4 linked regions of the Homo sapiens genome follow. The protein of the gene in region 4 binds, or shares a complex with, the protein of the main gene of each other region. Each region holds a gene or a part of one and is shown on either strand. Other genes may lie near its edges. The genes, in order: SMARCB1, ARID1A, SMARCD2 and SMARCA2.

Evidence for each region.
Region 1: SMARCA2 (region 4) and SMARCB1 share a complex: the UniProt entries of both Homo sapiens proteins name them as parts of the BAF complex.
Region 2: SMARCA2 (region 4) and ARID1A share a complex: the UniProt entries of both Homo sapiens proteins name them as parts of the neuron-specific chromatin remodeling complex.
Region 3: SMARCA2 (region 4) and SMARCD2 share a complex: the UniProt entries of both Homo sapiens proteins name them as parts of the BAF complex.

The regions. Positions count from the first base shown.
Region 1 is NC_000022.11:23,782,632-23,789,987, forward strand, and holds the start of SMARCB1 (SWI/SNF-related matrix-associated actin-dependent regulator of chromatin subfamily B member 1), read left to right. Parts: upstream 1-4,334; 5' UTR 4,335-4,538; coding exon 4,539-4,631; intron 4,632-7,356. Other genes in the region: MMP11 (stromelysin-3 preproprotein), read left to right, coding at 780-913.
Region 2 is NC_000001.11:26,692,187-26,699,029, forward strand, and holds the start of ARID1A (AT-rich interactive domain-containing protein 1A), read left to right. Parts: upstream 1-3,828; 5' UTR 3,829-4,030; coding exon of another isoform or gene 4,031-4,217; coding exon 4,218-5,354; intron 5,355-6,843. Other genes in the region: translation initiation factor IF-2-like, read right to left, coding at 3,093-3,779, 4,031-4,219. UniProt on the Homo sapiens protein: Involved in transcriptional activation and repression of select genes by chromatin remodeling (alteration of DNA-nucleosome topology).
Region 3 is NC_000017.11:63,839,676-63,846,671, reverse strand, and holds the start of SMARCD2 (SWI/SNF-related matrix-associated actin-dependent regulator of chromatin subfamily D member 2), read left to right. Parts: upstream 1-3,986; 5' UTR 3,987-3,997; coding exon 3,998-4,213; exon of another isoform or gene 4,214-4,291; intron 4,292-6,996. UniProt on the Homo sapiens protein: Involved in transcriptional activation and repression of select genes by chromatin remodeling (alteration of DNA-nucleosome topology).
Region 4 is NC_000009.12:2,010,816-2,018,347, reverse strand, and holds the start of SMARCA2 (SWI/SNF-related matrix-associated actin-dependent regulator of chromatin subfamily A member 2), read right to left. Parts: upstream 3,002-7,532; 5' UTR 2,944-3,001; intron 1-2,943. UniProt on the Homo sapiens protein: ATPase involved in transcriptional activation and repression of select genes by chromatin remodeling (alteration of DNA-nucleosome topology).

The sequences.
Region 1 (7,356 bases), on a different chromosome or scaffold from region 4:
GGCCGGCTAGTGCTACATTCCATATTGCAGATGAGGAAACTGAGGGTCAGAGAAGTGCAAGGTCTTACCCTGGTTTTTCAGCCACAGCCAGTAGAACAATAAACTGCTGTACACTGAGGGCCAACAATGCTCTAAGCTCCTTACTGGTCTCATCCAGTTCTCAGAACAGCCCTCTGATGTGACACCTGTTGTGAACCCAGTTTCCAGAGGAGCAAACAGAGGCTCAGGCAATGAGGCCCCTAACCTGGACTACCCTGGTGGTCCCTGCTCCTAACCACTGACCCACCCAGCCTCCCACAACCACAGGGGGCTAGAGCCAGTCCAGTGCTCCCTCCCCTGCTAGGCTCCTCTTCTGTGCTCTTTCTCCCACATCAGGACCCACTGGGAGAGCTATCCTAGGGTAGCCTCCAGCTCCAGGACTCCAGGGTGCCCGTCAATAGCCTGGCTAATTTAATAGATGCAGGAGAGAGTGATGTGGAGGGTGGTGGGGGCAACGGGACTTGCTTTCCTGAGAGGTGGGACTCAGGCCTCTGAGGCTCTGGGTACCTGTCAGGCTGGGTATTAGCCCAGCCCAGATTCCGGGGCAGGCAGAAGGGCTCCCTAGAGGGAAGAGAGGTTCTGAAAGGCCGGCCCTGGATCCTGCAGGACTCGAGGAACTCAGCAGTGGCCAAGGGCTTCCCACTCAGCCCTCCCTTAGTGCCCATCCCTGGGCACAGCCTGACAGGCAGGAGTAGGGCCCAGTGTCCGCTCGCCCAGGCTTGACCACCTTCTCTTCTCAGGCTATGCCTACTTCCTGCGCGGCCGCCTCTACTGGAAGTTTGACCCTGTGAAGGTGAAGGCTCTGGAAGGCTTCCCCCGTCTCGTGGGTCCTGACTTCTTTGGCTGTGCCGAGCCTGCCAACACTTTCCTCTGACCATGGCTTGGATGCCCTCAGGGGTGCTGACCCCTGCCAGGCCACGAATATCAGGCTAGAGACCCATGGCCATCTTTGTGGCTGTGGGCACCAGGCATGGGACTGAGCCCATGTCTCCTCAGGGGGATGGGGTGGGGTACAACCACCATGACAACTGCCGGGAGGGCCACGCAGGTCGTGGTCACCTGCCAGCGACTGTCTCAGACTGGGCAGGGAGGCTTTGGCATGACTTAAGAGGAAGGGCAGTCTTGGGCCCGCTATGCAGGTCCTGGCAAACCTGGCTGCCCTGTCTCCATCCCTGTCCCTCAGGGTAGCACCATGGCAGGACTGGGGGAACTGGAGTGTCCTTGCTGTATCCCTGTTGTGAGGTTCCTTCCAGGGGCTGGCACTGAAGCAAGGGTGCTGGGGCCCCATGGCCTTCAGCCCTGGCTGAGCAACTGGGCTGTAGGGCAGGGCCACTTCCTGAGGTCAGGTCTTGGTAGGTGCCTGCATCTGTCTGCCTTCTGGCTGACAATCCTGGAAATCTGTTCTCCAGAATCCAGGCCAAAAAGTTCACAGTCAAATGGGGAGGGGTATTCTTCATGCAGGAGACCCCAGGCCCTGGAGGCTGCAACATACCTCAATCCTGTCCCAGGCCGGATCCTCCTGAAGCCCTTTTCGCAGCACTGCTATCCTCCAAAGCCATTGTAAATGTGTGTACAGTGTGTATAAACCTTCTTCTTCTTTTTTTTTTTTTAAACTGAGGATTGTCATTAAACACAGTTGTTTTCTACCTGCCTGCTTGGTCTCCTTTTGTGAATGTTCAGCCAGGATGGGGAGGCCTGGCCACTGTCCAGCCCTATCCTGGGAGCCAGGGTCGAAGTCCACCACCCCCAAGCCTCTGGCCCTTGGGGCTGGGCACAGTGCTCAGGGCTCCTTCTGCTCCATTTCTACATCACATTTTGCTACAGTGGCTTCTTAACTGGCTCCCCACTTTCCTACTTGTCCCCTCTGTTCATCCTCCAGAGTGGTGGTTTATCTGCTCATGCCACAGCCCAGCCTGCCATACATAGCTGTGGTTTCTGCATCCGTAGGCTCAACTAACCTCGGGTAGAAAAAACAATGTTTAAAAAAAGGATGCGGACGGGCGCAGTGGCTCGTGCCTGTAATCCCAGTTCTTTGGGAGGCCGAGGTGTGTGGATCACCTGAGGTCAGAAGTTTGAGACCAGTCTGGCCAACATGGTGAAAACCCATCTCTACTAAATATACAAAAATTAGTTGGGTGTGGTGGCTCATGCCTGTAATCCCAGCTACTTGGGAGGCTGAGGCAGGAGAATCACTTGAACGTGGAGGCAGAGGTTACAGTGAGCTGAGATAGTGCCATTGCACTCCAGCCTGGGTGACAAGAGCAAAATTCCGTCTAAAAAAATAATAAAGTAAATAAATAGGCTGGGTGCAGTGGCTCATGCCTGTAATCCCAGCACTTTGGGAGGCTGAGGCCAGCAGATCACGAGGTCGGGAGATCGAGACCATCCTGGCTAACACCATGAAACCCCGTCTCTACTAAAAATACAAAAAATTAGCCAGGCGTGGTGGCGGGCGCCTGTAGTCCCAGCTACTCGGAAGGCTGAGGCAGGAGAATGGCGTGAACCCAGGAGGCGGTGCTTGCAGTGAGCCCAGATCATGCCACTGCACTCCAGCCTGGACGACAGAGCAAGACTCTGTCTCAATAAAATAAGTAAATAAATAAATAAATAAATAAATAAATAAGGGATGGTTACCTCTGTACTGAACATGTACGGACTTTTTTCCCTATCATTGTTCCCTAAACAATAGTATAACAACTATTTATATAACATTTGCATTGTATTAGGTAGTATAAGGAATCTAGAGATGATTTAAGGTATACAGGAAAGTGTGTGTAGGTTATATGCAAGTATGACACCATTTTATATAATGGACTTGAGCATCTGTGGACTTTATTATCTGCAGGGGGTCCTGGAACCAATTCCCATGGATACTGAGGGATGACTGTACTTTGGTTTCCCACCACTGTGAGGATACAGAACAAAGCAACTTCAGTCACTGCCCTTCCCAACTCTCCAGTGTCTCCTTGCCCTACCTTCCAGCCCCATGTGTGTCTTCGTAATAGCATAGTTGCATTTTTTTTTTTTTTAAGAGAGGCAGGGTCTCCCTTTGTTGCCCAGGCTGCAGTGCAGTGGTGCAATCAGCTCACTATAACCTTGAACTCCTGGGCTCAAGGGATCTTCCCCTCTCCACTTCCCAAGTAGCTGGGGCTACAGGTGCACACCGCCATGCCACACCCAGCTTATTTATTTTAGAATTTTTGTAGAGACAGGGTCTTGCTGTCTTGTCCAGTCTGGTCTCAAACTCCTGGCTTCAAGTGATCCTCCCTGCCTTGGCCTCCTAAAGAGTTGGGATTACAAGGCCGGGCGCAGTGGCTCACACCTGTAATCCCAGCACTTTGGGAGGCCGAGGGGGGCGGATCACGAGGTCAGGAGATCGAGACCATCCTGGCTAACATGGTGAAACCCTGTCTCTACTAAAAATACAAAAAATTAGCTGGGCGTGGTGGCGGGTGCCTGTAGTCCCAGCTACTTGGGAGGCTGAGGCAGGAGACTCCAGCCTCAAAAAAAAAAAAAAGAGTTGGGATTACAGGCATGAGCCGCTGAGCCCAGCCACAGCTGCAATTTCATTAGATTGAACGGTGTGAAATCATCAGTAGTGGGCCACTGTTTTACTCCCTGCATTATTCAATCATGATTGCTTTCAGACTTTCATTAGTTTCACTAGCTTCGCGCTGTAAGAGCCAAGAGGCAGAGCCACAGGGCTGGGCTGCCTGGTTTCACTCCCCACTGCAGGGCTCGGTTAAGCAGAGTGTAGGCTAAGAGAGGAATGGAGAAGGTGGAAGGTGTCTCTCCCTTCCAACGCTCATCTGATGCACCAGCCAAACCAAATACCACCTGGGCCTTTGAACATTGCCAAGCCTCATCCGCTGTTGTCATTTTGCCCACCTCCACAGCTGCAGGGACAGCCGTAGGCCCGGAACTGGGATATCTCTTCCTAGGGGCCTGCCTATCTGCTCAGCTGCACTGCGTTTTAGGGGTGGGGAAGCTAAGGCACGAGATTGGGGTCCCAAAGCATGCCCAGACCACCCAGGCTTCCAGATACTAGGTCCTCCTCCTTCAGGCCTCACTTCGTTGCTTTTCCCCTGGGCTCAGTTCCAGTCCTGGCTGTAAGACTGGGAAAGCCACTGCTTGAGTCAGGACCTCATTGGCTATTTTTGTCCGTGAGAAGTCCTCTACACCACGACTTGGGAGGCAGCCTGGGAGAAAGAGAAATTAGTCGTGGCTCCTTTAAGGGGTCCGCGGAGGCGCGCCCGGCCTTTTGTTTGAGCGGCGGCGCGCGCGTCAGCGTCAACGCCAGCGCCTGCGCACTGAGGGCGGCCTGGTCGTCGTCTGCGGCGGCGGCGGCGGCTGAGGAGCCCGGCTGAGGCGCCAGTACCCGGCCCGGTCCGCATTTCGCCTTCCGGCTTCGGTTTCCCTCGGCCCAGCACGCCCCGGCCCCGCCCCAGCCCTCCTGATCCCTCGCAGCCCGGCTCCGGCCGCCCGCCTCTGCCGCCGCAATGATGATGATGGCGCTGAGCAAGACCTTCGGGCAGAAGCCCGTGAAGTTCCAGCTGGAGGACGACGGCGAGTTCTACATGATCGGCTCCGAGGTAGCCCGGGGCGCGTTCTCGCCCTCCCCGGGCTCGGCCCCGCGGGAGCCCCGGGGCGGGCCCATGCGCCGAGAGCGCGCGTCTCCATTCATCGGGGCGGGCGGGCGCGCGCGCGCGCGCTCGGGGCTGTGGGGCGTGGCCTAGTGGGCGTGTCGGGTGTGGCCCCCGCCCCCTCATCGACCTGGGATTTCCTTACTTATTTCGCCGAGGTCCGCCGCCTTCAGTGCTGCCAAGATTTTGGCGCCGCGAGGGGCCCCAGTGGTTCCGCGCTGGGTTGGTTTCCAGTCAGACGCAAAGAAACGGGATATTGAGTTAGCCCCTGCGACGCTTGGGGGACTGCACTGCTGCCTTTGACCCTTTTTAGATGTCGTAAATTTCACGTGCACCCCTCCCCGTATTGCTACTTGTGGGAACCTCAAATGGCAGGCTGGAAACCCTGGACTTAGTGAGGGCTCATCCCCATTGTGTTTGTTGCCTCTTAGGTGAGCAGTGGAGGTCTTTTGACCTTTGTTTACCGGTGAAGAAACAGATTGGAGGAAGATGTTTGCTTTTGGGTGAATAAGGGCCCCATGCCTAAGCTAGATCTTTCAGCAGTTCTGAAGCGATTGACACTTTCCATATCTGTGAACTGATTCTGAATTATTACAGGGGAAAGAGCCTAAGGATGTTTAACCCTTAACTAGAGTGGCTGCATTTTGTTGCATCAACTGGATGACTGACTTCAGGAAAACTCTACTGGCCTTTGAATGGGTGTTTGTTCCAAGTCTATTAGGTTCTTGTTTTTTGTTTTTTATAGAGACAGGGTCTGGCTATGTTGCGCAGGCAGGTCTCCAACTCCTGGGCTCAAGCAGTCTGCCCGTCTGGGTCTCCCAAAGTGCTAGGATTACAGGCATGAGCCACCACACCCGGCCATATATTAGGTTTTTACAGATTGTCTCAAACTAGCCTTTTTTGCTCCAAAGGCAGTCCCCAGCTAGTATATGTTACCTTTTTAAAAAAATTATGGATATACAGTTCAGATGTACAAATGTCAAGCAGTAGAATCTCATGTAAGGAAGTAAGTGCCAATCCTGGAGAATTAAAGCTATCATGAAATGCCAAGAGTTTCTTCTCCTTATAGCAGTTTTTAGTATCATATTCCAGCATTTTATTCGTACTTTATTTTCTTTTATTTTTGAAAAAAGATCTCACTTTGTGCAGTGGTGTGATCTCGGCTCACTGCAGCCTTGACCTCCTGGGCTCAAGCGATCCTCCTGCCTCAGCCTCCCAAGTACCTGGGACTACAGGTGTGCACCACCGTGCCCGACTAATTTTTGTATTTTTTGTAGAGACAGGGTTTTGCCATGTTGCCCAGGCTGGTCTTGAACTCCTGGGCTCAAGTGATCCTTGCACCTCAGCCTCTCAAAGTGCTGGAATGACAGGTGTGAGCTACTGCACTCACACTCAGCGCATTCATACTTTTTAAACTTGTGGGTTTTATCCTTCACAATTGAGCATAGCATGAATGAATGAAGCCTCAAGATGGTCACACTGAGTCCCATGGATGAGACTAAGGTCAATAGCATCAGAACTTTAGTGTTAGCATTTTCCACCATTTTTTTTTTCTGGACGAGGTTTGACTCTATCACCCAGGCTGGAGTGTAGTGGTGTAATCTCGGCTCACTGCAACCTCCGCCTCCCAGGCTCAAGCCGTCCTCCCACCTCAGTCTCCCAAGTAGCTGGGACTACACGCACACACCACCACACCCGGCTAATTTTTATATTTTTAGTAAAGATGGGGTTTTACCATATTGTCCAGGCTGGTCTTAAACTTGTGAGCTCAAGTGATCTGCCCGCCTCGGCCTCCCAAAGTGCTCGATTATAGGCGTGAGCCACTGTGCCTGGCCTCCACTAATTTTTATAAAACAAAAAATATAGGATTCAATAAAATTTTCACGTTGTCACTTAAATTACAACTGTTCAAAGATGCCAGTGCTGGGGAGGTAGAGCCAGTGCCTGTCCATCTGCCACAGTTCAGAATGGTCCTCATTGGCCAGTAGGCACCTGCCTAACTGCAGAATGCAAAAGGTGTCAAATTTCAGCCTGTGATACTAGGCGAGTTGTTTACCTGATCTAATGGGTGTAAAAGTAATCAGTTTGGCTCTAAGTAGGTGACACTTCAAAAGAAAGCTTTCATTTATTAGTTGGAGCAAATTGAGAAGCTGTGCGTGGCCAAGTGGGAAGAACCTTGGGAGGCCTGGTTCCAGCCCTGCTCTGCCTTGCTGTCGTGTTTCTCATGTGTATAATGTGATGCTTAGACTAGATGGTCTCCAAGATCTTCCCCAAAACACATTTTAGTTTCTAGAAAGCTAATTACAGTCTTGTCTTTCAGCCCCTTGACTCCTGGGCCTCCCAGTAAGAATAATCTTCCTGAGACCCAGGCTGTAAGAGACTCAGTTGGAGAGGCAGTTTGTTCTTTTGGGCCTGACTTAATCATCAGACCTTCGGAGTTTAGGGAAGAGTTCAAGGTCAGAGCTCTATTGAAATTCAGTAGCTCCAGTGATAGTAGTGGATGGACGGTCTCAGCCCACTGCCCTGTGGAAAACAGGCACTGTATTCAGAGAGGTGGGCCAGCCATAGCAACATACCCAGTGCCTCCATGCGCCATCTGTGGAGCTGTCTTGGGAAGGCATCTGCATTTACTAAGAGTGTGTGTCACTGTTCTGCCATTAACAGACAGCTGTAT
Region 2 (6,843 bases), on a different chromosome or scaffold from region 4:
CTCCTGGTTTGCTCCTTTGGGATTCTAGATCCTTGGCAGTCACAGTTTTACCGCGAAGAGCTGTTGAATGCCATTCCGAGTTCATTCCATTTTTCTCCGTGTGTGCATCCAGTTCGTATTTTACAGCTCCCGTATGGGAGCCGGTAACATAATGAATTGCCTTGACTCTCGCTTCAATCCACTTTCCTCGCTTAATATGCAGCCCAAAGTTTTGCAGCTCGCTGTCAGATGGTAGTGCTAGACTTTCACACCGATCCCAAAGCCTCCGCTGGGGCTGTTTCTTAACACGGAGTTACAAACTTTAAGAACAGACAGCTCCAGACGGAAATCCACGCCAGGCTTTGAACTCTGCTTCTGGCTTCCGTCAACTGACATAGTTGCCCTTTTGCTCAAACTCGCAGCTCCAGTTCGCACTCGAGAGAGCTCTGCTGGGTGTCTGCTGCTGTTCCGCGGCGGGAACGTGTGGGGGCAACAACCTGGCGCTCCAGCGATTCTCCACGCCTTAGTTAGGAATCTAAGCAAACCCTCGCTAGGGTCCCTGGGCTTAAGACGACTTCTCCCACAAGGATTGGGTGGAGGAAGGAGCCGAGCCCGATCTTCTGTTTGTTTGTTGAGTTTTGTATTTCAGACATTTAGGGGAAGCAAATTGCGAGAAAGGAAGGGCTGTCTTCCCTGCAAACGTTTCCCTCTCCTAGCAAACCCTCCAGGCCTCGGTTCCACATTTTGCAGTTGACTCTCTGGATTTTAATAGGTTGTTCCCTTGTCCTCGGGCCCAATCCATGCACGCTGTGCAGCCGGATAAAATGGGAGCACATCCTCTGCCATTTTCAGCCGGTTTGTCCTGGCAGCCCTGCCCCCTTCCTTGGCTGCTCTGCCGCTGGAGTTAATACGCCCAGAAACTCCGCCTGATCCTCCAGGCCTCAAATCCAGTCCGCGTTTGCTAAGTGCCGTGCGGTCGGGGACGGCGATAAGAACTCTCCTGTGAGGGAGAGCTAGCGAGACTTTAGTCCGGTTTCCATGTCAACGATTCAGTCCATATTTGCCATCAGGCTGTTGGCCGAGGTGCTTTCGCGAGGGTAGCGCTGTCCTAGTCCTAGTTCTCCAATCTGCGCCGGGATTCCTGAGCTGCCTGGGTGTGGGGTTAAAAGGCAGGGGCCGTGGGGGAAAAAACTCCACCGAAGGGAGGACCCACTGCCCCCAGCCGGGGTCTCGCTGCTCGGGCCAGCCACGTGCCCAGCTCCTCCCCTCCCCCGCTTTCCCGTTGCCACTGCCCCTAGGGAAAGCTGATGGGCCAGTTTCTAAAAAAGTTCCCTCAGCCCAACATTTCCTGGGATCGTGGTGTGGGGCTCTAAAAGTAAAAGTGGAAGAGAACCCTAGTGAATTAAAAAAAAAAAAAAGTAGAGAAATTCCACATTATCTCCTCCAACCCAGGTGGATAGATTTTTGTGCACTTTACCTTATTGCTAGAGAAAAATGGTGACTGTTTTCAAAACAGCTTGCCCACGTGTAGGGAAGGAGATTTTTGGCGCTTTCCATATTTCACAGCCATTGAAGAAAGGGGATGAGGGCTTTCTTTGGAGAGAAATCCATTCTAGCTTCCAGATTTTCACTGGGCTCCAGGTTTCCCATTACACCCCAGCTCTAAGGAAAATGGCAGAGTAATGGCATGTAAAAAAATCCTCATTTGTGTGCAGGACTCAGGACTGTTTGCCAGCTCAGGGGCAGTTGATTAAATAGCCAAGCTCTATTTATGAGGCAGCCTATAATTTGGTTTCTAGGACCTAATGCACCGGGGAGAGTTGTTGCCCCTGAGGACTGTGAGTGAAAAGAGGGCACTGGCCCATACCAGTCAGTCGGATCTTCTTGGTAGGCTGGTTTGGTTCTTGGCTTGAGGCCGGGGGAGGGGAGAAGAATAAAACTGTGGGATTTTTTTTTTTTTTAAATCTCATCACTCTTAGATTAACAGGAAGGTTTTGCCTTTCTGGTGTAGGATGCAGTAAGTTTTCTTGGGGAGAGAAATGAGTTCAGGCTTTGGAATTATTCATAGTGACCAGGGACATTGCCAGCACTCCCGGGTCCTGCATAATCTAAGATAATGCTCCTGTGGCCATGAAGTCTCCCTTTACAAAATCTGAGGGGGAAAAGAGATCCTGGTGTCTAGGAACACTGGCCTGGGCCTTTCCCAAGGCAGCCTTGGGTCTGGTGAGGAGCTGGAATCCCCTCTGGCTTTTGTAGCCTGTCATATCAGAACATTCCAAGTCAGCCTGAGGAAGAAAAGGCTGCTGCTGGGATTTGGTGGGGCCTGTAGATCAGGAGAACACTGGAGCTTTCTGTGTATGTCGATCTTTTCAGATAAACCTGGCCTTCTACCCAACTCCAGCTCAATCGGGGTCTCTTAGAATGTAATGGTAAACTTTAAACAATCTTTACGCTACAGGATAGAAAACAAATCTGACAAGCATCCATTTTCTAAGTGACTTGTTGGACTGTGCCTTTTCTTCAAGGAGAAAATGGTTTCCATTTTCTGCATCTCTCTTCTGTAATGGTTTGAACACTCAGGTTCCTGCAGTCCCTGGAGCCTCTTCTGTGGGTTTTCAGTATTAGAAGGTACTGTCTTTGGAGACTGGGGCTACTTGTCATGGTAGGCTAAGTTTTCTTAAGAGGGAGTGAGAAACGGTGTTTAGGTTTTCCTGCTGGGTAACTGTTCTATGCTCCTAAAGCAACTTCAGTGGCCTCCATTTTAAGTTAGTGGTGAGATGATCAGTTTTGACTTCAAATCCATTTTGATATTCTGATCCCATTGTTGAATGTGCTCACAACTTGATTTTTTTTTTTTTAAAGGCAAGTAGACCGAAGGCAGCTTTGGTGACTCCACTTCTTTTTAAAGTCACCCTCCTCTGCCCTCTGACTTTAAGTGACAGGCAGTTCCCTCCCCTCTCTTTCAATTCTGTAAAATGGGGATAATCCGGACCTCATGCCCCCAGAGCCTTGTAAGGACCGGCTAATGAGGGCAGGCGAGTGGGAAACGAATCGTCTGAACAATGATCAGTCATTCTTTCGGGCTTGCAAAGAGGGTAAAAAAGGTTGGGTCTTTAGCGGGGTCCGTAGAAGGCTTTGAAGACGAAAAGTGCTGTAGAGGTGCTAAGCAGCAGCCAACGGACCGGGCCCGCTGCCAGGGGGTCAGGGCTGGGCCGAGGCGGCCGCGGTCTCAGGCTCTGGCCAATTTTGCAGCCGCGGGTAAAGTTCACGCTGCCCGCTCCCCTCGGTACGGCCGGGAGGGGACAGACCTGGATAGGGACGCCGGGAGGGAGGCGGCGCAGGCTCCAGAGATGCGCGGGCTCCGGGCCGGGTTTTCTCCGAAGCCTTCGGCGGCGGCGCTGCCTAGCGAAAGCGGCTGAGGGCCTGCCGCCGCCGCGGCTTGTTCTCTCCCCTCCTCCTTTGTGAAGGGAAGGGAGCGAGTCCGTTCCACGGCCTGCGCCCGCTCCGCTCTCCACTCCGGGTTTGCCAGGCGGCCGCGACGGCGCTGGGTAAAATGGCAGTGCTGAGCCTCGTGTCGGAGTGAGGGGGACTCGGAGGAGAGTGGGGCGCTCTAGCCGCTCAGTCCGGCCGACCGCTTGCTCGCCCGCCCGCTGCCGCGCAGCAGCCTCGACCCAAGCCGCAGCTGGCGAGGGGAGGCAGGGCGCCGGGCTCGGCCCGCGCTCTGACTCTGGCTCCCGGCGCCCCGGCTGCTGCCGCGCGCCCTCCAGCCCGCCCGTCCCGGGTCCCCCTCCCCCCGCTCCCTCCCTCCCTCCCCGCCCCCTCCCCCTCGCCTCCCTCCCTCCCTCCCTCCTCCTTTCTCCGGCAGCAGAAAGCGGAGAGTCACAGCGGGGCCAGGCCCTGGGGAGCGGAGCCTCCACCGCCCCCCTCATTCCCAGGCAAGGGCTTGGGGGGAATGAGCCGGGAGAGCCGGGTCCCGAGCCTACAGAGCCGGGAGCAGCTGAGCCGCCGGCGCCTCGGCCGCCGCCGCCGCCTCCTCCTCCTCCGCCGCCGCCAGCCCGGAGCCTGAGCCGGCGGGGCGGGGGGGAGAGGAGCGAGCGCAGCGCAGCAGCGGAGCCCCGCGAGGCCCGCCCGGGCGGGTGGGGAGGGCAGCCCGGGGGACTGGGCCCCGGGGCGGGGTGGGAGGGGGGGAGAAGACGAAGACAGGGCCGGGTCTCTCCGCGGACGAGACAGCGGGGATCATGGCCGCGCAGGTCGCCCCCGCCGCCGCCAGCAGCCTGGGCAACCCGCCGCCGCCGCCGCCCTCGGAGCTGAAGAAAGCCGAGCAGCAGCAGCGGGAGGAGGCGGGGGGCGAGGCGGCGGCGGCGGCAGCGGCCGAGCGCGGGGAAATGAAGGCAGCCGCCGGGCAGGAAAGCGAGGGCCCCGCCGTGGGGCCGCCGCAGCCGCTGGGAAAGGAGCTGCAGGACGGGGCCGAGAGCAATGGGGGTGGCGGCGGCGGCGGAGCCGGCAGCGGCGGCGGGCCCGGCGCGGAGCCGGACCTGAAGAACTCGAACGGGAACGCGGGCCCTAGGCCCGCCCTGAACAATAACCTCACGGAGCCGCCCGGCGGCGGCGGTGGCGGCAGCAGCGATGGGGTGGGGGCGCCTCCTCACTCAGCCGCGGCCGCCTTGCCGCCCCCAGCCTACGGCTTCGGGCAACCCTACGGCCGGAGCCCGTCTGCCGTCGCCGCCGCCGCGGCCGCCGTCTTCCACCAACAACATGGCGGACAACAAAGCCCTGGCCTGGCAGCGCTGCAGAGCGGCGGCGGCGGGGGCCTGGAGCCCTACGCGGGGCCCCAGCAGAACTCTCACGACCACGGCTTCCCCAACCACCAGTACAACTCCTACTACCCCAACCGCAGCGCCTACCCCCCGCCCGCCCCGGCCTACGCGCTGAGCTCCCCGAGAGGTGGCACTCCGGGCTCCGGCGCGGCGGCGGCTGCCGGCTCCAAGCCGCCTCCCTCCTCCAGCGCCTCCGCCTCCTCGTCGTCTTCGTCCTTCGCTCAGCAGCGCTTCGGGGCCATGGGGGGAGGCGGCCCCTCCGCGGCCGGCGGGGGAACTCCCCAGCCCACCGCCACCCCCACCCTCAACCAACTGCTCACGTCGCCCAGCTCGGCCCGGGGCTACCAGGGCTACCCCGGGGGCGACTACAGTGGCGGGCCCCAGGACGGGGGCGCCGGCAAGGGCCCGGCGGACATGGCCTCGCAGTGTTGGGGGGCTGCGGCGGCGGCAGCTGCGGCGGCGGCCGCCTCGGGAGGGGCCCAACAAAGGAGCCACCACGCGCCCATGAGCCCCGGGAGCAGCGGCGGCGGGGGGCAGCCGCTCGCCCGGACCCCTCAGGTACACAGCTGAGTGGGGAGGGGGCTGGGGCGAGCGTGGTCCTGGGGGTGGGTGGCGGCTGCGGTGAGCGGGCCACAGCCTTGGGCTCCCCTCAGTCCCGGGCCCCCACTGCTGGGGAGCTGCCATTGTCTGGCTCTTCTCTCTTAAAATGGCTGCCTGTCTGCCTTCCTCTCCTTCCCTCCTTCAGCCTTTGTGTTGGGTTTTTCCAGAGGTGTCTGCTCCTCTTTTTCCTCTCCCCTGGTCCCTTCGAACTCCAGGGGTCTTGATGGGGGTGCGGGGCAGAGTGTGCGGGGAAGGGCCTGGCCGGGGGTGAGGGGGTGAGGGGGCGCTGGGGGCTCAGGTTAGGAGTGTAGGCAGTGGTAGGAGCCCAGGAGTTGAATGAACGTTTCTTTGCTCACCTGCCGCTCCTCTCCGTCCCCCGGCCTTCCTCTGGGCCGCCCCCCATCTGTGCTTTCAAAGAGGGCCCCTAGAGCTCGAGGGGACCTCGAGGGGAGGGCAGGGGACTGCTTGGGAGCTGCTAGAGGCCGGCTGCGGTTCACCTAGGGCAGCCCGGTCCATCTCCTGTCTTAGGCTCCGCCGGCCCAGTGGCCTGGGCTTCTCCCTGGAAGTGCTGGTAAACAGCTGAGTGATTGGAGTAGTAAGTGCAGATTGCTTTGGTTTGGGATTTGAATTATGGAGGTAAAATCCTTCTGTCAAAGCCAGGAGACAGTTGGTCTTAGGTTGACATCCTATCTGTGATCTGATTGGCTCCCCATCTCCTGCTCTTGGCCATTTATAATTGCCTCTGATGTAATGGTACAACAATCCTGATGAGCTCATAAACTTTTACACTCTGCTTTTCTGCCAGTGATAACCCAAACTATCGCTGCCACTATCTGCCTTTTATTCCAGAGCTGAAATTGGCTGTGACCTTGAGGAGGGAGGTTTAAGTAGCAATACTGTATCAGCAAGAGCAAAGCCTCAGACAGCCTGCCCTTGTTACATTGTGCCCAAACAAAAGAGGAGGCAATGGCATTTTGCTTGTACCTTGGATTTATTTTGCTTGTTATGTTTTATGCAGCCTGAAATGAATTCTGTGTTGTCAGAACAGTAGCTGAGTTTTTTCTCTACAATGGGTTTGCTGTTTGTTTTGGTTTTGTGACTTTCCTGATGGTATAAATGACTTCTTTGATGGCTCTGAAGATGCATTTATCTTGAGTAATTTTGACACTGGTTGCTTTGCAGAATTGAAATGATTTTACTGGGCTTTTTATTGAGTGGCAAATGTGGGATCTTTATGGGGGGCCAGAAAACAGTTTTTGTTATTTTTTTTAGAACTGGGAGCTTTCTGAGGAATTTTATATTAGGTTCAAGCGGTCTGTTTTAAGGAAGACTGGCCTCATTCTTTGTTTACATGTTGAATCTTGTTAACACTTTCTTTTGTTAATTGAACTTTGGAATAGCAGCTTAATTTAAAGGGAAGCTGGTGTCTTTCATGATCTTGAGGGAC
Region 3 (6,996 bases), on a different chromosome or scaffold from region 4:
ACCCCAACTCTTTAAAAAAAAAAAAAGAGGTAAAAATAGTGTGTACCTCATATATGGTATCTACCTCCTATGTGTTGTGATGATTAAATGAGCTAATTCACGTAGAAAATGCTCAGTAAATGTTACCTATTCTCTGCCTACTGTGTAGGAAATCTTCCTTTTATCTCTACCATGCCTCAGATATCTCTATTTGCTCCCTAACACCTTAAGGATATTTTATCATAACACAGTTAACTCATTGTTTATATTATCTGATATATCTGATATTAACTGATATTATATTATTGTTTATCATTCCCTCCCACTACACTCAAACATTGTCTGTTCATACATATTTGTTAAGTTACAACAGGGATCAAGGGAGACACAGTATATACCCCAAATAACTGAAAACAGGTACTCAAATACAAATATATATTCATAGCAGCACTACTTGGAATAGCCAAGAAGTAGAAGTAGCCCTACTGCGCATCAACAGATAAATGGATAGGGCCAGGCATGGTGGTTCATGCCTATAATCCTAGCACTCTGGGAGGCCAAGGCAGGAGGATCACTTGAGCTAAGGAGTTTGAAATCAGCCTGGGCAACACAGCGAGATGCTGTCATAAACAAATAAATACAAAGACAAACAGATGAACACATTGTGTTATATACATACAATGGAATATTATTCAGCCATAAGAAGAAAGGAAGTACTGATACATGCTACAAAATGGATGAACCTCAAAAACATTATGCTAAGTGAAGGAAGCCATGCCCAACACCCACCTATTATGATTCCATTTATATGAAGTATCCAGAATAGATAAATCTAGAGACAGAACCCAGATTGGTGGGTGCCAGAAGTTGGGAAGAGGAAGAAATGAGGAGCAACTTCTAATGAGGATGGAGTTTTCTTTTGGGGTCATTATTTTGGACCCCAAAATTTTGGACCTAGGTAGAGGAGGTGTTGCACAACATTGTGAATGTAATATATACCACTGAATTGTGCAATTTCAAACAGTTAATTTTATTACGTAAATCTCACTTCAATTTAAAAAAATAGCCAGGTGTGGTGTATACCTACTCAGCTATTCAGGAACTATCACTTGAGCCCAGGGGTTTGAGGCCAGCCTGGGCAACCTAGCAAATCACTGTCTTAAAAAAATACAAATTTTAAAATAAAAAGATAAATTGAGAGAGAAAAAGATCCTGCCTTCGTAGAGTTTATATTTTAGTGGGTGAGCCACATCAGACAGTAAATCAGCACACACTTAAGTAATGATGTACTGTGATAATCACTTGGTGGGAAGTAGGGTGTGAGAGAACAGAGAGGCTCTGAGATGGGAAGGGGATGGGTAGTTTGAAAAACTGCAAGGAGACCATCTGGGCCAATGCTTGGAGAGCCAAAGGCAGTGATTTAAAATGAACCCAAGGAGGTAAGCAGGGACCAGGTCCTGCAGAGCCTTAAATGTCACAGGAGGGAGTGTGACATTCAATCTAAGAGCAATGGGGAGCTGGGGAGGGTTTTAAACAAGGGATTGACAGGAACTGAGTTATATTTAACCGTTTGATCTGCTTTATTATTATTGAGACAGTGTCTTACTCTGTCACCCAGGCTGGAGTGCAGTGGCACGATCTCTGCTCACTGCAACCACTGCCTCTTGGGTTCAAGCAATTCTCGTGCCTCAGCCTCCTGAGTAGCTGGGATTACAGGTGTGCACCACCACGCCCAGCTAATTTTTATATTTTTAGTAGAGACATGGTTTCACCATCTTGGCCAGACTGGTCTCGAACTCCTGACTTCAAGTGATCCACTCACCTTGGCCTCCCAAAGTGCTGGGATTACAGGTGTGAGCCACTCCACCCAGCTGATCTGCTTTTAAATGCACTTATTAGCTTGCCCCTTTTCTAGGGTAGAAAAAATCTTGTGTTTTCTGATGCGACCCACTGGGTCGCATCAGAATTACCTAGGAAGCTTATTTTTCAAATACAATACTGAGAGCCATTGGATTGGAGGGGTGGCTGGCGGAGGTATTTTGGAGTAGCTTCCCAGAGGACTCTGATTCTCCACTGCCCCTATCACTTTGAGAATTACTGTTGTTCTAGAAGCTTAAAAGGATTGAAATGGATATTAGCTGCCTTATCATGAACTCTTAACCCACTTTACAGGGATGGGAGGGGCCATGATTCAGTGACTTTAACAATTCCAGTGGCCAGTCCCCAGACTGACAGGTTATCGACTCTTGGGGCAATAGAGTGGGATCTCTAAGTTCAGGAGGTAAGAAAACAGCAGCAGCGGTGTTTATCACTAGAGGCATGAGGAGAACTAATTTCTAAAAAGCACTGGAGAACTATACTGTAAAAAAGATCTGGGGTGCTATGATGCAAGGAAGGAAGTATTACTTGGTTGGGGCTGGAAAAATAAAGCAATTATAGTAAAAAAACTAAAAAAAAAAAAAAGTCTAGATCCCGGCTTCTTGACAGTGTGGTCTGAGAAGCAACAGCATCGCTGGCAGCTTGTTACAAATGCAGAGTCCTGGGCCCTGCCACAATCTGCATTTTTAATAAGAGCCTCGAGTGTTTTTTATGTGCTCATTAAAGTTTAAGCAGCACTGGTCCATATCACGGCGAGGAGATCCAGACCATCAGAGGGTAGGCTCCCTGGCACAGCTGACGCATTTTTGAATACTTTGATACAGCACAGTGTACCTGAAAAGATACTGCATTTTTGAAAATTAAGTGCTATAAATACTGGAGAAAGACCTCTTTTTTTAAACTGCGGGGAGGTTTCTCATAAGCCAAATTTCTTTTGACTAGAAGCATTTTCTGGGGAGTAAAGTACCAGGCTTCCTTAAAGTGAGGCGGAGCCACGTTAAAAATGTGCGGTAGAACTCAGCCTTGGCCAAGTCGACCGTTCACCAGCTGGGTCAAGTCTGGAGCCTCCTAGGTCCCTTGGCAGTTCCGAGCTACCAGCATGAGCTTTTACAGGAAGTTGAGTTGGCTGCTGTTCTGCCCCACAGAGCAGCTGAGTCTTTTTTTTTTTTTTTTTTTTTTTTGATGAGTTTCACTCTTGCCGCCCAGGCTGGAGTGCAGTGGGGCGATCTCGGCTCATTGCAACCTCTGCCTCCAAGGTTCAAGCGATTCTCCTGCCTCAGCCTGCCGAGTAGCTTGGATTACAGGCGCCCGTCACCACACTCGGCTAATTTTTGTATTTTTAGTAGAGACGGGGTTTTCACCATGTTGGCCAGGCTGGTCTCGAACTTCTGACCTCAGGGGATCCGCCCGCCTCAGCCTCCCAAAGCGCTGGGATTACAGGCGTGAGCCACAGCTACCGACTCTGAGTTGAGTCTTTAACGCCGAAGATGCAGAAAGGAGACTTGACAAAACTATTTTCGGGGAGTGTGGCCGCGGAATTCGGTGAGGGTGCTATACCGGGAGAGAGTAGTAGCAACGGCTCATTCACTGTGAAGCCCCTAAGTGACCTTAGACCTCTGACCCCGCGCCTCACTCGGCGCTTCCGCGCGCAGCTTCCGCTCCCGCCCCTCCGACGAAAGGCTGGGCCAAAGGTGGGGGGGTGGGGCTCTGAGGTCGGCAGTTAGGGGCGGTGCCCGCTGGGGGCGGGTCTCGCGAGGGGCAGGATTCGAGGAGGCACTCGAGCATTGGGCACCAGGTAGAGGCGGGGCCTAGTGCTGGGCTGGGTTGGGCGGGGCAGGGAGTTCGTAGCCGCCTCTGGGTAACTCGACTCGGGCGGCCAAACCTCCGGAGGCCGGGGACGGAAGGCGGGCCCGCAGCAGATCCTGGATCCGGAATCTCCCGGGCAGGAGCGGAATCTGTCCCGAACCGGGTCTGTGAGGAACTCGCGAACTTGGATTAGGAAATCCCGGAGCCCGGATCGACAAATCCCGGAACCCGGAATTAAGATCGCCAAGTCCCGGATCGCGGAGCACAGAGCACGGAGTGGACTCGACGCGGAGCCCGGAGTCCGGATCGCGGCACCGCGGGACGGGACGGAGCGATGTCGGGCCGAGGCGCGGGCGGGTTCCCGCTGCCCCCGCTAAGCCCTGGCGGCGGCGCCGTGGCTGCGGCCCTGGGAGCGCCGCCTCCCCCCGCGGGACCCGGCATGCTGCCCGGACCGGCGCTCCGGGGACCGGGTCCGGCAGGAGGCGTGGGGGGCCCCGGGGCCGCCGCCTTCCGCCCCATGGGCCCCGCGGGCCCCGCGGCGCAGTACCAGGTGAGCAAGGAGGACGCGAGCGGACGGGGGCGAGAGGCGCTGCGAGGGCGCCCGGGCCGGCGGCTGAAGGGGCCTCGAGTGAGGGCCCTGGGGAATGCATGAGGAACTCCGGGAGACGGTGGAGGGCGGGCCGGGACCCTCGGGCTGCGGCGGGTCGCGGTGGAGAAGTGGGAAGGGGAAGCAGGTTCTGCAGCGGAGGGCTGGAAGCAGCTGGGAGGCCTGGGGGCTTCCGCGGCACAGGGATTCCGAGTGACTGGGAGATGGAGGAGTTTGGGGAGCCAGTGAATTGTGGCGGGTGGGTTGAGAAGTCTAGGGTAGGAGGGCTGGAAAGTGATGAGAAAGTTTGGGAAAGGGCCCTCGCTGAGAAACCGGGGTTACCCTGCATCGGCCTTGGTCCCAGTCCAAGTCTGCCCTGTTTTTTCTGATTGGGAACTGGCGGAGCTCTAGCGTGTCTGAGATGGCTCCCGGCTGCTAATAAGGAGGAAGGAGCCTGGCTTCCCACGGGCACGGGACGCTGAGGCTAGGGCCAGGGGATTCCAGCTTGTGCACGGGCGGACTTTACTCCTGAGGCAGGGCCAGGCGCCTTCGCTGGGAGGACTCCAGCTTAGACCAGAGACGGTGGTGGCCTGGCCTGAGGGGAGGCCCAGCCCAGTCACAGGCCGGCTCTCTTCTGGGCTTTCTGCCTCCTGTCATCGTGTCCGGGAGTTGATTAGTCTGGACGTGCAGAGTGGAGCCCTGCTGGTCTGGGGCCGGAGGAGTCTGCGAGAGTTGCTTCAAAGAGTGCTGTCCTGACCCCTTTGGGGTTTTGAGAGCTGCTCAGATTGCAGCTTCAAAAGCCCTTGCAAAGCAGCGACTTCTGCTCAGTGTGTGAGGACCTCAGCCTGACCCTGCCAGTGCTCTAGTCTGCTGTTCAGGTTGCCCCAGAGGGCTTGGAAACTGTGCCCATCTGCCTTGTCACCCTCTCTGCATTTTTATTTGGCCTTCAGGTTCTAACTCCACCACGTCCGAAGCCATGTGCCCAAGCATTTGACACTGGCTTCTTGCTCATCTACGGGTTTGCTGTGGGCTTCCTCTGTTTTCGACTCATGTCTCCAGGCAGAGGTCCTTAGGGATCCTCGTGGAGTATACACAGCCTACCTGCCCCACTGGGCCCTCACTTCTAAGGAGATGGCTTAACTAGGGACAGTGACTGGATTTTTTTTTCCTTCTTACTCCTCATTCTTCCTCCTTTCTCAAGAGAAAAGAGAGTCTGGGTATGGGCAGAGACAGACCTGGTCCCAGGGATTCCAGCTGGGGCTCATCTCTCCCACCTTGCTGTCCCCGTTGGGGATTCATGGGCCCAGGGTGTTGCTGAGGGCTCCCTGCATCATTCATTGTAGCCCTTGGGCCTGCCCACTGAGACCTGGCCTGGGCACCATCTGTGGGCCTTTGGCCTTGGAAGGACCTGGAACAGACAAGCCGCTCCAGTTTCCTTGGCATGCAAGCCATAGGAAATGTGCCCTTGGGACAGCCCCTGAGAGGATGGATTCCACATGTTTTGGTGGGGGGTGGCCTTGGGCCTGTGGCAAGGCCAAGCTGGCTGGCTGGTTAGGCCTGGGCTGCTAGCTGTGCGGAAGTAGGAGATGGCCCTGAGTCTGGGTTTCCCATCCCACTAGCTTTCCTCCTCCTGGCAGGAGAGGTAGATGGGAAGGAGAACCCAGCCAGCTAACTTTGGCTGAGTTTGAAGAGGATCCTATTTGCCTTCTTTCCAAGTCCAGTTGTATGACTGCCAGGAGAAGGGACTTGAGATCTGGGAAACAAAGGGGTTCCTGTCTGTTAGGGCTCATGAGATGCACTTGAAAAGTGAGAATTTGAGGCCCAAGCTGAGCAAATAGTTGAAAGAAGGGAAGTGATGACCTCCCTTCCTCCAGAGGGTGGTTCTAGCTGTGGATCACAGTTAACAGAGGAACCTAAAAAAAGAAAAAGAAAAGAAAAAAACCTCCAGGGCAGGATATGGTGGGCTCACACCTGTAATCCTAGCACTTTGGGAGGCCCAGACAGAAGGATTACTTGAGACCAGGAGTTCAAGACCAGCCTAAGCAACATAGTGAGACCATCATCTCTTAAAAAAAAAAAAAAAAATTTAGCCAAGCATGGTGGTGTGCGCTTATGGTCCCAGCTACTCAGGATGCTGTGGCAGGAGGATTGCTTGAGTCCAGGAGTTCAAGGCTGCATTGAGCTATGATCCTGCCACTGCACTCCAGCCTGGGCAACAAAATAACAAAAACCTCAGATTGCTGGGTTCACTCCAGAGAGTTCAAAAAGTTCAAAAAAAAAATTTTTTTTTTTCTGATACGGAGTCTCACTCTGTCGCCCAGGCTGGAGTGCAGTGACATGATCTCAGCTCACTGCAACCTCCGCCTCCCAGGTTCAAACAATCCTCTGCCTCAAGCCTCCTGAGTAGCTGGGATTACAGGCGCCCACCACCACGCCCGGCTAATTTTTTTGTATTTTTAGTAGAGACGAGGTTTCACCATCTTGGCCAGGATGGTCTCGAACTCCTGACCTTGTGATCCACCCGCCTCGGCCTCCCAAAGTGCTGGGATTATAGGCGTGAGCCACTGCACCCGGCCTCAAAATCCTTTTTACTCATGGGAGAGTGGGTGGTATGTTCCCCAACTGAGGCCCTCAGGCCCAGGTTCCAGGAGCATCAGGGCCACATTTGGGGCAGGGCAAAGCACGCTCACCGGAGCCCTGGATTCCTCATCTGGGGTTCAGGGGATTGATCCAGGCCTACCTGGTCC
Region 4 (7,532 bases):
TTGCAAAACTCACCCAAAAGTTATATAAACAAAGGAGGGGAGAAGCCCAGTCTAGGCTTTGCACCCATGTGCCACTAAAATTACATAACACCCGGTGCAGACATTGAATAAGGAATGGATTCTGCACAACACCCCCACTCCCTCGATTCCCAAGCCTTCCTCATTCCCTTAAAAAATCCAAACGCCTAGCAAGAGCTAGTGGACGACTTTGAATATTTATTTTATTGCTGGAGTAAAACCTGCGAGAGTTGGAGGTACGTTTAGGCCCGAAGTTTGAATGTGCAACAGCCCCGGGCGCAGCGACTCACACTCTCCGGACCCGGAGGAGAAAGAACTGACAAGCAACAGCGGCCAGCAAGGCCTTCTTCCCCCTCATGGTGCCTCCCGCTGGAAAGTTTTCCACGCAATCGATCGGAGGACAAGGAGCCCATTTCCCCCGCCTGCCTGACTTTGCAGGAAAGGCGAGCCGGGAGACCGGAGGGGGCTGGCAGGGAAAGAACTGGAAAGCTCCGCACACAGCCGGCGGCAGGGCTGCGCAGGCTCCTTACCTGGAGGACGCGGAACAAAAAGGGGCGCGGGGTTCGCGGAGCTTGGGGTGGCGGCGCGGCCGGCGGACGGGAACCGGTCTCCGAGCCGCGGCTCTAGGCCCGCGCCACAGCCCGCGGCCCGGCCCCCGCCGCTGCCGCTTCCTCCCTCGCGCGCGTCATGTCACGGCAATCAAACATGTCTGTGTGCTGTGTGCGCTTCGCTGCTGTGACTTCCTGATTCTCCGCCGCTCGCGCGCGCACACACACACACTCACAACCACACGCACACGCCACCCCCACCAGCCCTCGCCACCAAACCTCGCCTTGTCCTCCCCGGGCTCCAGGGGAGGGTGCGGGCAGGAGCAGCTGCCCGAGCCGCTGCTCCCGACGCACTGGCTCCTGCGCGCACAACACACACTCACACTCACACTCACGCGCAGACACACTCGCGCCGGCCGGGAGGGCGCGGAGGCTGGAGCCGCGGGAGCTCGCAGCCCCCTCCCACCCCTCCACCCTACTTAGCCGCCCTGCCAAACTTTTTTTTTCCTGCCTGATCCACGTCCAACTTCCCTCCACCCCACCCCCCAAGCAGCCCAGCCAGCCCCGCGCTCACCACCATCCGCAGCAAACGGCAACCCGGATAAAAATAATAATGCAATCCAGGCGGCAGAGGCGGAGGCGGAGGCGAGCGATCAGACACTGGCAGGAGGCGATTTCCCCGCGTGTACCGGAAACCGGCCCAAGTGCCCCGGCCAAGGCGCGGGTGTCCGCCGGAGCCCGCACTGCCGCGCCCCGCCCTCCGCCGTGTAACTGCACCCAGGCTGCGAGGCCTGGTGCGGGGCACCGGGAGCACTGTGCTCCGTGTGCGCCCTGCGGCCGGAGGGCGCCGAGGGGCTGGCGCGCCGGACCGGTTATTTAGGGAAGTGCATCGCGACACCTTTGCAGATGGCATGGCCGTGTTTTGCAACGCAAACGGGAGGAAGGGAAGACGGCCGGGTGGAGGGGGAGAGCAAAGGAAGGGGTAAACCAGGTTGGGATGGGAATAAAGCAAACTCCTGAGCAGGGAGCGAGAAGGAAGGAGTGCGTGTCATCGTTGGGAGGAGGCTCCTACCCGGTCTCCCCGCCTCCCGCCCTCGCCACCCCCCTATTCCCTCCCCACCGCAGCCCTTCCCCTTCCCGGGCGAACCACACCGCCGCTGCCCGGTGGTGCGCGGGTCCTGTTTGTGACAGTCAGGCAGACAGGATTATCCGGATCATGGCCTCCCGGGCCCGCAGCCGCCGCCGTGGCTCTCCTGGGTCCCGGCGCGCCCCTAGCACCCGGACGATCGCAGGCGCCCCACGCCCGCAGCTCCCGCGGCGCAAGCAAGGGGAAGACGCGAAGCAAAAGAACACGGACCCGGGGAGAGGGAGGGCAGGGTAACGGAGGCTGGCGGGCACCTCCGACCTCCTTGGGGGCCTCCTCCCTTCCCTCCAGCAGTGCGGCCCGGGCCGGACATCCCGAACTTTAACACCCGAGCCTGCGCTGCCGCCAGGTACCAGAGGCAGGGACGTCCGCAGCGCCCGGGGCGCAGCCCCCTGGCAGCCCCTTTGCCTAAAGGCCTGCCTACCAATCAGCCTCCCCATCCACGCCGGAGGAAACGCGGAAAGTGGAGGTGACACCTCCGATCAGGCACGCACCGGCCCCGCGGCAGTGGCCGCTACCTCCTTCGCGCGTCAGCTCAGGCTTCTCCCGCTGCGATCCGCTCACGTCTCCGCAGCCGGAGCCCTTTGAACAAGTCCCTGGGAAGCGGGTGGCAACAGCGTCCGTTGGCGCCCCGCCGCCAGCCTGGGCTCCCCGCCCTCCTTTCCCGTTCCCCTTCCAACTCTTCCGGGGAGGGTTGCCCGGGATGAACAGTAGCGTTTCCATCCTCCTCCCCTGTCCCCCAGGCCTTCCCCCTCCTGCGGCCACCCCCCTCCCCGCCGCCTCACTTTTAAGGGGATGGGGGGATTGCAACCTGGCCCAATGTGTGTGTTGCAACCTTGAGTTGGCAGCGCCTCTGACTGCCCACTCAGGATCAAGGCTGTGGCTTGTTGGGATTTTTTTCCTCCTTTGCCCCCTTGAAGTAGTAATTATTACTGTTATTATTAGAACAGCAAGGTTCGGTTGAAACTTTCTCGTTTCTTCCACCGCCGCCTGGGAGCTGTCGTTAGAGCATTCCACCTGAGGCCCGCGGGGAGGAGGCGGGCTTTTTTTTGTCGCGGCGGTTGGCCCGCCTGTTTGTTTTGGTCTCCTTGCATGCACAATAAATAATAATTAGGATAATAATGGATAATCCCGGGCGAAGGCGGCGTGGTGCCGGAGGGGTCTGAGCGGCGGCTGCAGCGGGGCGGCCGAAGGGAGGGGAAAGAGGAGAAAAGAGTTGTAAGTTATATTTACCTTGCTCGCGAGGAGTGTGCTGGCTGAATCTCTTCCCTCTCTGAGTCACCCAGAGTACAGAAACAGAGGGAGAGAGGACTAGATTATGAATATGACTTCATTGATGACAGCCGTCCCCTCCTCTTCCTAAACTCGGGCTCCGCCCAGCGTCCCACCCTCGCCTCCTCCGCGGGCGCCGGAAGACGCGCCGCAGTTGGCCCCGCGCGCCGCTCCTCCCTGCCCGTCCGGGCGCGGGTTGGCGGGACGCGCCTGTCACTCGCTCAGCTCAGCGACTCCGGGAGCGCGGGGGGAGGAGGGGGCGGTGTGCAAGAATGTGGATCTAGACAGCTCTACTGTATGCGTGGATCCGTGTGTGACTGCAAGGCGCCGGCTCTCGGGCCGCGTTTGTGCCTGGAGCAGAGAAACTGCGCGGGATGCAGAAAGCCCCAAGCCCTGCTGGAGCTGGGCGCCCGCTGTCCCTTCCCTGGCAGTCCTCTTCCTCGGGCGCCGCGGGGCTCCTCCAGGGAGACTGCGGAAGGGGAGGAGGCGAAGCGAAAACGGAGGGCAGCCGTAGTAATAGCGCGTAGTAGTTCGGGGGTATGTGGAGAAGGTGCTGGAATTTAACTGTGCCTCCGCCTGCCAGTGCGAGCCTGCAGAGAGAGAGGGAGGGGACGGGGGACGGGCTCCGAGTGGCACCAAAGCTGTTTGTGGCACAGTGTGGACTGTGGAAAAAACGGGCATTGTCGTGCCGGCTGAAACTTTTTCTCCCCCTTCCCTAAGGCTGTCATTATAAATCTGCCCCCTATTCCAGGTAAAAAAATAAAAAATAGAAAAGGGAGGCGGGCACAAAGAACGTTCCTGCCAAATCTGTCTCTTCCCTGAAGGACTGCAAGCTTCCAAATGCCAACGAGGGAGAAACAGCTGAGAGGCTGAACGCCTTATAAATAAGTAAACCCACCCTAACCTCTCTGTTTACTTCGTGGACTAGGTACAGCACTATAACCTTCCCTCACCTGCCATCTTCGCTAAAATATATACAAAAATATGGAAAAACAAACCCTGGGGGCGGGGCTGGCGGGTTAGGGGGCGGCTGAAGCATGGAATCTGGTTTTGATTTAAAAAGGGGAATAAATCTCTTATTTTCTACAGACCGTAGTCTCTTCCCTCTCACCCCGCATTTGAGACCAATTAAGGCTGCAAATTGTAATTTGCTGGCAAGTCGCGGTTTTGAGACCTCTTTGCTCCAATTTTCCTTGAAATACAGTACTTTGGCCGGACCAATAGGTCGGTGTTTGGTGAGACAATTTTATTTTTAGTTTTATGAAGTGTGAAAGAATGTTAGGAGACTTTAAATCAGGGGCCTATTATTTTAGACTCAGATTAATGTAGATGCTTGACTCTTAAAACTGTTCCTATGCAGTAGTGTTATGAAAAGTATGATTTATCCCTTATTTCGTAATGTAATGGCTTAAATTAGTCATTCAAAGTGCACTGTGACTATCTGGTTGAGGATTCTTCCCCCTAGAGTAAAATCCTATTTTAAGACCATTTTACTGTTGCAAAATTGACTCCATTTGAGCAACTGGGTCTGAAATGCAGTTCTAGGATGCTTAAAACTTCAGGCTGGATAAGTTGAAGACAAGAAGTAATGGAAAGAACGCCAAATACTGCCATGTAGTCATTAAGAAGCAAGAATTCTTTATATCACTGGTCCACTGCTGGCTGAAGCAGAGCCCACTAGGGCAGCATTTTCATGATGGCTGGGAGTGTTGGTGATCACCCACCCTATAGCTTTCTAAGGTCTTGCTACTTGCTTGTTAACTTTAGCTTCATCATTTTCTGTCTATCTTGAAGTGAACCTCAAGACAACGAAAGATAACACAGCTAAGAGAAATAGAATATAGTGTGCCCTGAAGGATCCATTGTAAGAACTTGTTTTTCTGCCTGAGGATATGCCGGTATAACTATTAACTGAGAAATATATAGGGAGAAATTTTAAACAAGACTAGTAGTATAGTAAAAGTGTAACATAAATACTAACTTCTAACTGCCTAATAAGTCGCAACTAATAATATAGCCAGATAACCTACCTGTCTCTAATAAAGAGATTTAACCTAATAGCAATGCTTATTACATTGAGAGTATTAGGTTTTAATTTTTTTGGGGTCTAATTTGTTTCTCTGGCATGCCGGCCTCACATGCCAATTTTCAGAAATTGATAACTTCACTTTTATTCCCTTGTGAATAAATGCCCTTTATCCCCTTAAGATTCTACTTCCACTTGCCATGCAAATCCTCAAAAAAACAAAAACAAAAACAAATCAATTAGTAAGTCCCTGGAGAAAGAAACTGTCCATTCCTTCTGGCATTTTGTCACAGGGAAAGTAAAGAAGAAAACATTCCCTTTGTTATATGTGTATATTCTTCAGCTCATATAAAATTTTGATGTTGTCCTTGGAGGCGTTGGTATCCACGCATTGTATACACACAGCTATGGGAATTAAAATACATCGTTGGGAACAGAGATTAAATATAGATATTGCATCTCCCTCTCCCTTCGCATTGGTCTAAGAAAGCACCACCTTCCCCCATCACCCTTCAAGTTGTTCCTCTAAAAATTCGTCTTGTTTGTAGTTTGTACCCTAGCAGTTACGAATTTTATAAAATAAGGCCTCAACACAGGAGAAATGAAAAGGCAGCGTCATTCACTTGGTACAAAAAGAAGATTGTAGAACATATAGCATGAGTTTCACCTCTGAGGTAAAACGAAATTTAACAATTGAAGTTAAGGAGGAAAATGATGGGTTTTTTTTGTTTTGTTTTGCAGAAAATCATACAAAAGCAAATGTGGTTGGAGGGTAAAAGGACTCCAGGAGGCTGCACAGGGTGCTACGTTCACACGCAGCTTTTCTTTTTGGACTTTGATGAGTCATAATGTGTTCTCTGAACTTGCTTTTCTCTTTCTAGTTTGGTATCAAAAGATAGAAGTCACTTTTTCATGTCTGTATGGCCACATTCACTTGTTATGTAAGTCTGCTTTGGTTACATTCTGTATAGAGTAGATACTGGGTTTAAAACTTGGTATCTGGATACAACACCCTCATAAAGAAAAATTCCATGCACAACGTTAGGAAGCTTCTAGTCCCAACAGACAAACTGTTAATGCTGCCTGAAATGTTGCCTAGCTTCAAACACGAGCAGGTAAGACCGTTTAGGCAGTGAGTATTTCATCTTCAGTAATGGAAACCAAGATTTGACAAATTGAATCAGCTGACATTTAATTTAAAGAATAGTTTAGAATTAACAAGTAAATTTATTACAGAAATAAACACTCCTCTCTCTCCTTTTTTCTTTTTTTCCTTTTTGAGTCAGAGTCTCGCTCTATTGCCCAGGCTGGAGTGCAGTGGCGGGATCTTGGCTCACTGCAACCGCCGCCTCCCAGGTTCAAGGGATTCTCGAACCTCAGCTTCTCGATTAGCTGGGATTACAGGTGCCCGCCACCATATCCAGCTAATTTTTGTATTTTTTGTAGAGACAGGGTTTCACCATGTTGGCCAGGCTGATCTGGAACTCCTGAACTCAAGTGATCCACCCGCCTCTGCCTCCCAAAGTGCTAGGATTACAGGGGTGAGTCACCACACCCCGCTCTCTCTTTTTTTTCTAATGGGCATGTTCAATAAATTATGTTTTTCACAATCATTCCCCCAAAATACCACCCCCAATTCTCTTTATGATTATATCGTTCTTTAGCTTAAAATCCTTTGTCTATTCCCAATCCATTTTACGGTAAGTTTCAAACTTCTTGGCATGTTATCCTAGGCTGTGCATAGACAGGTCTCTACCAGCGTTGTTGACCCTGCCGCCAAAAATGCCTGGGCTCAGGGAAAACCTGTCTACCGTTTGGTTCCTAAGTGACCACATTGGACATTCTCCCCTCTGACTGAAGTGCAGATCCTCAACCCACATCCTCAAAACTCAACTATGACCCAGAATCCTTCTAGTGGTCTTCCCTGTTCTCCCCAGGCAGAGGAAGCTGCTTGTCCTACTCTGCTCCCATAGCAACCGGTGTGCGCCTCCATTATAGCACTTATCACTTTGATGCAATTATTTGTTTGGTGTTGTCCTCTAGATGGTTAGTGCCTGGAGGGTGTTTCGATTCATCTTTGAAACCTCAGCAATTACCCTGATACCTAGCACATTGTATTTAAAAAAAGAAAAGAAAAAAAAACTTTGTTGAAGGAAAGGATGAGAGATAGATAATAAAATTACCTGACATAGAAAATTTAGCCGGTCTTCACTATTAGTAATTATCATGTTAATGAACAACATCAGTAAGTGTTCCGAATCTTTACAGTATCTGCCAAGGCTTGAAAACGCTTGGAAAATGTGTTTGGTTTTTGTTTGGTTTTGTTTTGTTTTGTTTTGGGGAGGGGGGATGTGGGAAGATGAGGAGAAGCTACAGCTCTTGTAGTCATAGAAAGAGCACCGACAAGAGGTTTTGTTTGTTTTTAAATTAGGCTAGGAGTAACATGAATGCATACATGGCAATTGTTTAATACAGTAGTCACAATTATAATTGCAGCTCCTTTTTATTTCTCTTTTAAATTACA